Linked DNA regions of Homo sapiens. The protein of the gene in region 1 interacts with the protein of each later gene in a pairwise test. Each region holds a gene or a part of one and is shown on either strand. Other genes may lie near its edges.

Region 1 (4,290 bases):
GAGCTTCGCCAGGTGGTGGGCACCTGGGAGCCATGCAGAGGCTGTGGTGCTGAGTTAGACTCCAGGTACTTTGTGGTCAAAGGAAATCGCCTAGCTCCAGGCTGTGTTAGGACAGTATTAGCATGAAGGCTGTGCGACCATCATGCCTGCTGATCCTTGAGGCAGGCCTGGTCCAGAAAACTCTGGGTCAGTGACTGCGCAGGGCCAGCCGCTACCAGGACGGCCCTGAAACAGGACACATCTGTTTTTTGTCCCTCACCCTGGGCAGGCCGCGTCACAATCACAGTCCTCCTCCTCCCCACCCTGACGTCTGAGCGCAGGGCTTGAATTGTTAGTCCCAACTCTGGCCAAAGATACTTTTTTCCAGAGACAGAGGCCAGGAGGCAGTGAGGGGAGCCCCGCGGGGAGGCGGCGGCGACTGCCACAGCCCTTCCAGCCTGTCTTGCTGGCCGCCCTGGTTCATATTTGAGTTTAATTGTACTGACCCTGGACCCAGATAAGCAGCAACTTTGTGTCTTTGGGGTCACAGAACATTTTGGGGCAGTTTAATGTGGTACCAAACTGAAAATAGGAGCTATTTATAGATGGAGCAGCACTTAGTGCTTCATAGAAAGCAATGCCTATTTTTAAAGTTACAAACGCAGATATCTACATAGATATGCTTTGCTGAGAAGTTAGGTCTGTGGTAGACCAGAAACCACAAATTGACTTTTTTTCTTAGAAAATATTTCTATTTGCGGTAAATATAGTAATATGTAAATAATGTACATCTGTTGATTTCTGGAGTGTCTGTTATTCAATGATGTATATACTCCCACAGCTCGCATGAAGGAACAGCCTCTATTGATACTTGGTTGTAAAGTGAAGTAAGATTGGAGGGTGGATGGCTGTCAGAGCTCTTGCAGATACTGTGTTCACTAAATAAAAATCACATGTATTGTTAAAACAAGCCTAAGACTTGGTTCTTTAAAACAGATATTGTTGGGTCCAGCAAACACCCCTCCAATTTTCCTTTGCCCGTCCGAGGTGGGATGGCCTGGCCGAAGGTGCCGACTTCGGCAGGAGCACTTACTTGAAGGTTTTAAGAAAGTGAATTCAGATGATGACAGGAAGGAGTCTGGAAGCAAATGGGGAAAACAACAGTAAAAAGACGCCAAGTGTGTGATTTGCTGCCATTTATATACTATAGAAATTTTACATGCTGTATATTTACAGTGGGGCAAGTGCTTTTTTAATCTTTAGAAAAACAAAGATCAAACTTTAAACATCTCTGAACAACACAAACTGTATAAACCATACAGATTATTCAGATACAAACTGTATTAAATACAGTTTTCCCCACTCCATCTCCTGATGCAGGACCAGTGAATTATAAGTGTATCACAGTTTGATAGCATATCCATATTAAAAATAAAATCACAGTATGATTGTGTCTGTAACTAGAAACTCGAAGGGACCAAGCAGACAACGGAGACTCCAGTATCAGTGAAGACAAGAGACGCTGTATCAAAAAGTGTTGTGTAATAGAAACATACTGTCGGCTTTACAAATCATGTCTGGGTTATACATTCATAATGTAAATACTCATCATAACTGGGAAATTGATTGATTGGAACAGTTCCACAAAGTTCAAAAACAGAACTTGTCTATAAAATACATCTTCAAATCTTGAATACAACTAAAATAAGCAAATTAGTTTCTAGTATCAGACATTACAGAAAACAGACTGCTCTCCAAAGTCTAGGTGAGAGCTTGTGAGTTTTTAAATAAGTCTTTAAATTAAATATACACACTGTCAGTTTGTACTTTTGACAATTCCATGGTCTCCCGGTTGGTCTTGCACCAGATGTCTAACTTGGAGGAACATTACATGAAATACAAGTAATCGACCTGAGTCTGTAATTAAGCAGCATTTGAGATGTTCTATTCCAGGGCATTATTTCAATGGGATTTATATACACGGTATTTTACAATGGTCAGCAGTGGTAGAAAGTGTTCGTCCATTCGGAATAAGGGTAATTAAGAAAAGGTAAAAACTAAAAAAAAAGTTCTCCATGGTAAAATCTGTACAGTATTTACTAAAGAAGCACCACGCAGATTGGAACAGAGTTATTGTCTATCTTTATAATTTAAGCTGGGCTGGGGATGGCTTCTGTTGAACGCGTTGAATCTGAAAGACAAGAGGCGCAGGGTTAGTGAGTTGGAGGCAGGCGGCGGCGTGTAGGGCTTATTCCCGGACGCCCTGCCAGCTGCTCCCGAAGGCTGGGGAAGCTCTTCCTTGAGGAGATCACTCTGCCTTCTCTGCCTTCCTGAGTGGAAATGAGGGAACTGGCGGTGCGGGCAGCTCAGCCAGGGAGGCGCCATCTGCTGGGCCCGGCCACCACCCGCCCCAGATGCCTCCTCCACCTCCATCCTCACAGCCCCTCACTCAGGAAGTTTAGCTCCTTAATTAGGGTTGGGCCTCTCCCTTGAGGACACATTGATAAAGCCTGTTAATTAACGGCCAATTAATCCACAGACTCTTCACTTGGCAATTCATTTTAAATTCCTCTTGCTGACTACATGTGACAGACACATTTGGACAAAGTTTCCTTTCAAGGGAAAAATGGTTCACTGTCCCCTCTAGCTCCACAAGGGTCAGGTATAAAACCAGTGACTCTCCCAGGACCGCTGTGTGAAGTGATCCAACAAAGCCCCACAGCTCCGAGGTCCTGATCTGCCGCCCGGCCCTGGGCCACCTTCCTATGGTTTTGTACGGTGGCTGCTGGGGGGGTGCTGGCTCCAGCTCAGTGCCACCTCGGGGCGCAGACAGCAGCACAGGGGACGGGACGGACGAGGGAGCAAGGCTCCGCTCTCCTGAGTGAGGTGCCTGTGCTGGGGACCGGGCCTCTCCCTTCCCAGATGTTTATCAAAGGCCCGTGGGCTCTGCCGCTGTGAGCCGGGTTGGCTTTTCCCAAGTGAGGCACAAGGGAACAGGGCGACTCTGCCTGCGTGAAGGATGCGGGTCTTCCCCAGCCAGTAATGCAAACGTGATGAGGTGGAGGGTCTAGGTCTGTCCCCAAGCGCGTGGCCTGGGTCTGGGCTGGCTGGGAACCTGCCGGGGCCTCTCCATGGCTCTGCCAACTCCTATGAGCCCAGCCCCCAGGCAGAGCCGCAGAATTAAAACTCCTCTGCCTGCGTCCCCTCAGCGCCACCACAAACAATGAGGAAACAGACAGGAAAACAGCTTACCATAACTAGTGAATTTTTTGTTTTGAGGCTGAGTTTTCAATCACCTAGAAAGCAAAGGTCAGGAAAGAGATTTTAATGATGGTTGCAAAATCGCCAGGGCCTCTGCTGTGTGTGTGCGTTAAGTGGCTATGGTCAGAGTCACTGCGGTTCCCTGTGAGCGCCTGAGGCCACTCCCCAGTGAGGTGAGCAGGGATGTCCCAGCGCTCAGCGGCTGCTCCCAGGGTTTTACTGATGTCAAAGGGTTTACGTGATGACTGAGGGCTCCATCCAACCCACACGCAGCCTGATGTTAGAACAGATATCAGGCCCAAGAACTGAACTGGGCGGAACAGAGCCAGAGGAGGAGTTTGAAAGAGAAAGACAAGGGGCCGAAGTCCAGGGTAGAGGGGGACCCGCAGGACCACAGGACGCTGGGTGAGGCGGGGCCGGGCAGCGGCCTTCTCAGAAGGACAAGAAAGGCTCCTCAGTCTGCTCGCAGCAGAAGCGCCAGCTGCAAACCCTGTCATCGGTGCAGTGGGACGGGGACGGAAACACAGGGCCACCACACAGACAACGCCTGACCACAGCACCCGAGACACGAGGCAAACAAGATCACGTTCAACCTCCCTCCCGCTGGACCAGCTGCCTCGGGGGCCATCACTGTCTCCCAGTAGCCCCAGCTGGAAGCCCATGATCCTGGGAGCCTGCACCACACTCAGAATGAGCCCATCCACTGCATCCTCGGATCCTCGGGTACCAAGCAGCCCTCACGAATCTCCTTCCCCGATTCGCTGAAATGGGAACGCAAAACCAATTCTGAAATGTCCAGAACGTCTACAAGGCCCGCAGGCAACCCGTCCTCACCGGCAGTGCTGGTGCCTGTCCTCATCTCCGGCTGTTTCCCCAGCACTCCATGGGCAAATGTCCCCCATGGGGCTCACCCCGCAACCCCCAGCTCTCTCTCACACACTCTAAGGACCGTTTACCCCTCAATCAACAATGCATGCTGGCTCTGGGCTGCTGGGAGGGACAGGCCTTCCCCAGAACACACAGCTCCACCTAACCCACAACTCAGCCGAG
Region 2 (4,366 bases), on another chromosome or scaffold:
ATTTGAGCCCACATTTCAGGAGGTAATCCTTATATAGGGCACATCCTGCACAATCCTCTGAAGTAATCCCCACTCTGTGGGTAATCCCTCCACAAAACTTAAATGCCCTGATATACTCCCTGGCTGTCAAGGAATGTACATTTAGAAAGATAAGATCTATATATGTAACCATGGTACACATCCATAAGAAAGCTTCAAAGTGCTCAGAGGACATATTCTGGAGGAAAGGAGTCAAATAAAAGGATGATTTCCTAAATCTCTAAGTGAAATTAAATAGCATTTGGGATAAAAAGAGAAAAATAGCAGTACATAGTGAGGCATTAGAAAGAGGAGAATATCTATAGGTGGAAATATTTACAGGAACATGGTTTTCAGTAAATTTTCCTTTTTTTCCAAGTGAAAGGAGAAACATAAGAAAATGTAGGAAAAATTGAACTTACTTGAGAAATAAGGAATAGTCAAGGTTGGCTGAAATATGTTGGAAACAAGGAGAGTAAAAGCCAGAAAAGCCCTTTGAGGCTAGAGTATTTAGCATTGAATGACAGGCTAACGAGACATTTAGTAGGTGGTGAAGATAATAAACTAGATACAGGGATTCAATCAAGATTATAACTTTTTCTATGCATTAGGGAGACTTAGTCAATATGGATAAGGTAGTTGAAAATGAGCAGATCAGAAGCTGTGCAAAAAATCCACAAAGGATGGATGGCAGTCACAAGCAGATAGGAAACAAAATAGGGAGAAAGAATGAAAAAGGAGAGATCTAAGGAAGACTTTAGAAAATGATAAAACCATTAACTGATATAAGGACAGTTAAGACCAGAAACTGGTATAAGAAAGGAAAATAATTTAAGCTTTAGATGTAAAGTTTTATATGCTGTTAGGATGTTCAGAAGCAAATGTATAGTAGGAAGCTGAAAAGGAAGTGGAGAAAAGAAATGTCATATTTCTGAGAAAATAATTTGGAGTCAACTCCATGGGTTATAGTTTAAGGTCCTTTATAACATCAATGATAAACACTCCAGCGAGAAATGATGAGGACAGTTCCTTGGGAAACTTACAAGGAAGAAGCAGAACATTCAAGGAGTTAGAGAAAGGAGTGGTAAGAAAAGTGGGAGGGCAGCCAAAATATCATGGTAATAGAAGCACCAAAAAACCAATAAAAGAACGAAAGAGCAATTAAGTAACAATGTGAGATATTAAGATAATTACTTTTAATAAACAGTTGTTTTTGAGGACATACATGATCTGTGAAGGTAGCTGTTTCAGGAAAGTTGGGTAGGAGTCACATTGCATGTATTTAGAGTTTTATTACGTATAGAGATCAAATGAAGAGAAGTATGTTAGAGAAGGAAAAACAGTAAGAATATGGACAAGTTGTTTTTCTTTCAGTATTAACTGAAGGATTTTTTTGGATAGGAGACAATGCATATAATCTATAGCAGCGATCCCCAACCTTTTCGGCACCAGGGACCAGTTTTGTGGACAACAATTTTTCCACAGCAGGGGGATGATTTTGGGATGAAAATGTTCCACCTCAGATCATCAGGCATTAGATTCTCATAAGGAGCACACAACCTAGATCCTTCACACATGCAGTTCACAATAGGGTTCACGCTCCTGTGAGAATCTAATGCTACTGCTGATCTGACAGGAGGTGGAGCTCAGGCAGGCAGCAATGCTCACTTGCCCTCCACTCACCTCCTGCTGTGTGGCCTGGTTCCTAACAGACCATGGACCAGTATCGGTTTTATGTTGGGTATCTGTCTATATATTAAACAAACAGGCCACGGACCGGACCGTTTTATGTTGGGTATTTGTTTATATATTAAATCACATGCCATAGAACATCTTGAACAATATGACACATGATGCAAGTGATACAAACAAAGACAATTAGAAATGTGACAGCCTGAACAGAATGGGTTGGGGACAAGAAGGAAGGGACCACATGCCTGTCAGAGTGAGGGAGCTAGCTACCTAGATGTTTGACATAAAAATTTAGTTTATAAGACACAACAACAGAGAGAAAGATGATATTTGATATAGGAAATGAATTATTCTAAAGATTCAAATGCTGTTTAAATATGATGTTCTGAAAAATACCCATGTTCACTGAGTAACTTTGTGAATATTGCTTAACTTTTCAAATACCGCTGTTATTAGAAACAGGAAGCAATGTAAAACAAAATGTCAGTATTTTTTGTCATCAATAGAAAGGAAACTCTTCAACATGAAACTATTTTTACTCAATAAAATGAACATCAAGGTCCACTAAAAATAATATTAATTGTGAATAACTGGTCAAACTTTTAAAGGTTAGACTTTAATTGAATAATTCTCTACTTTAAAAGGAATAAGATAAACAGCATACATACAAACGATTTTAAGGAAAAAAATCACAAATCCAAATTCTATATTTATTTCAGATGTACAATACTTTGGAAAGTTTTTCACTTTAAAATGCCCTAACACAAATAAAAACTTAGCAGTGTCATAAATACAGTAAGTATTCAAATGTCTTTCTAACAGACATTTAAGTTGAGAAAAAATATGGATCACAAATACTTAGGGTCTATATTAAAAAAAAAAGAATGCGGTGACAAATCACACTATAAGCAATGCCAAAGAGAAAAGTGACCCAAAAGTGACTCAAACTTTTTGTTTACTATAATAAAATATTACTTAGTATTCATATAACTAAAAACATCTATAATCTATTAACGAAGTTCAGCTAAACAAAGAATGTAACGAAAAGTTTAAGAACATTTTGCACACTAGCCATACTAACAAGAATCTTCACTGTTGGACAATAATGACTGCTTTTTTTCAAGAAGCCATAAAAGCTACAGATTTAAATACTCATTTAAAAGAAGAGTTAACTGAATATATATCATTGACAAAGTCTGACCTTTTACCTTGCCAATTATCCTTTTATCATATTCCAAATTAATATGACAATAAAAGGAGAACCATTAAATAAGTTATATCTACCACTGTAGTATACTTTAAACATGCTTTCTAAGAAGGATACCATACGTATGTTTTCAGGTTCTTACACCTCAAAGGAATAAAACTGAATGATAATGAAACACAACAAATTCATTTTGCTGGAATGCAGCAAAAGCCAGGCTCAAAGGAAAATTCATAGTTTTAAAAGCATATTAGAAAACAAGACATGCTTAAAACAAATCATCTTGTTTCTACCACAAAAAGCTAGAAAAAGAACAGCAAATAAAATACAAAGAAAGTACGATGAAGGAAATAAAGTAACAAAAAAGAGACATCAATCAACACAGAACTTACAAACATTAAAAGATTAAAAAGAATGTTATTAGCCACTTTATGGTAATAAATTTAACAACTAGAGGAAACAAATCCCTTGAAAAATGCAGCTTTTCAAAAATGGCACAGGGAGAAAAAATCTGAAAAGTTCTTTGTCTGCTAAAAAAAAATGAAAGTCATAACTTAAAATAAAAAAATCTTCCGACAGAGAAAAATCCAGGCCTAGATGGCTTTACTGGCAAATGAACTAGACTTTTGAAGAAGAAAAAATGGCAATTTTATACAAACTCTTCCAGAGAATAAAGAAAGAGGAAGCACTTCACAACTTTTTTTTACAAGTGCAATACTAAAATCTGACAAAAACATAAGGAAACTATATACCAATATCCCTCATGAACACAAATGCAAAAATCCTAAAAAATATATTGGCAGAATGAATCCAGAAGTATAGATAAAAATGGAAAACAAATCATGATTAAGTGGGGTTCACCCCAGGAACGTAAGATTGATTTATCATTTTAAAACCAATTACTGTTAATTGTACTACATAAACAGACAAAAATAGAAATACCATAAAATTATTTCCATAAATGTAGGAAATGCATCTGATAAAACTCAACAGCTATTCATAATTAAAAAAAAAAAAACCACAACTCCCAGAAAACTAGGAGTAGGAGGGAATTTCTTCAATCCAATAAAGAGCATTTAAAAAAAAAAGAGTGAAAGTCTGTAATAATAAATTATCAAATGGTTTCTCTTGAAGGTTTGGAAGGATGTTCACTCTATTTCTACTCAGCATTGTACTACTGGAGGTACAACAAATCAAAGAAGATGAAAAAAATAATTTAAAGTCATGAACACTGGCAAAGAAAAATAAAATTACTTAGTATAGACATAATTGTACATGTAAAATTCGAAGAAATCAAACTAGTAGAAATAATTGTATTTATCTAGGGAAGAAATGCAAATTCAATTTACAAAAACCAAATTATTTCTAAATGCTAGTAATAAACTGGGAAAAATTTTAAATATCATTTCCATACCTCATCCAAACCCACCAAATACTGACAAATAAACTTAA

Evidence for each region. Proteins that work in one complex are often made in the same cells at the same time.
Region 2: the proteins of USP42 (region 1) and CPEB2 interact in a two-hybrid assay, tested with the Homo sapiens proteins (one large-scale study listed by BioGRID).

What each region holds. Positions count from the first base shown.
Region 1 is NC_000007.14:6,158,435-6,162,724, reverse strand, and holds the end of USP42 (ubiquitin carboxyl-terminal hydrolase 42), read right to left. Parts: intron 3,276-4,290; coding exon 3,268-3,275; 3' UTR 3,232-3,267; intron 2,171-3,231; coding exon of another isoform or gene 2,130-2,170; 3' UTR 1,161-2,129; downstream 1-1,160. UniProt on the Homo sapiens protein: Deubiquitinating enzyme which may play an important role during spermatogenesis.
Region 2 is NC_000004.12:15,047,481-15,051,846, reverse strand, and holds part of CPEB2 (cytoplasmic polyadenylation element-binding protein 2), read right to left. Parts: intron 1-4,366. UniProt on the Homo sapiens protein: May play a role in translational regulation of stored mRNAs in transcriptionally inactive haploid spermatids. Binds to poly(U) RNA oligomers. Required for cell cycle progression, specifically for the transition from metaphase to anaphase.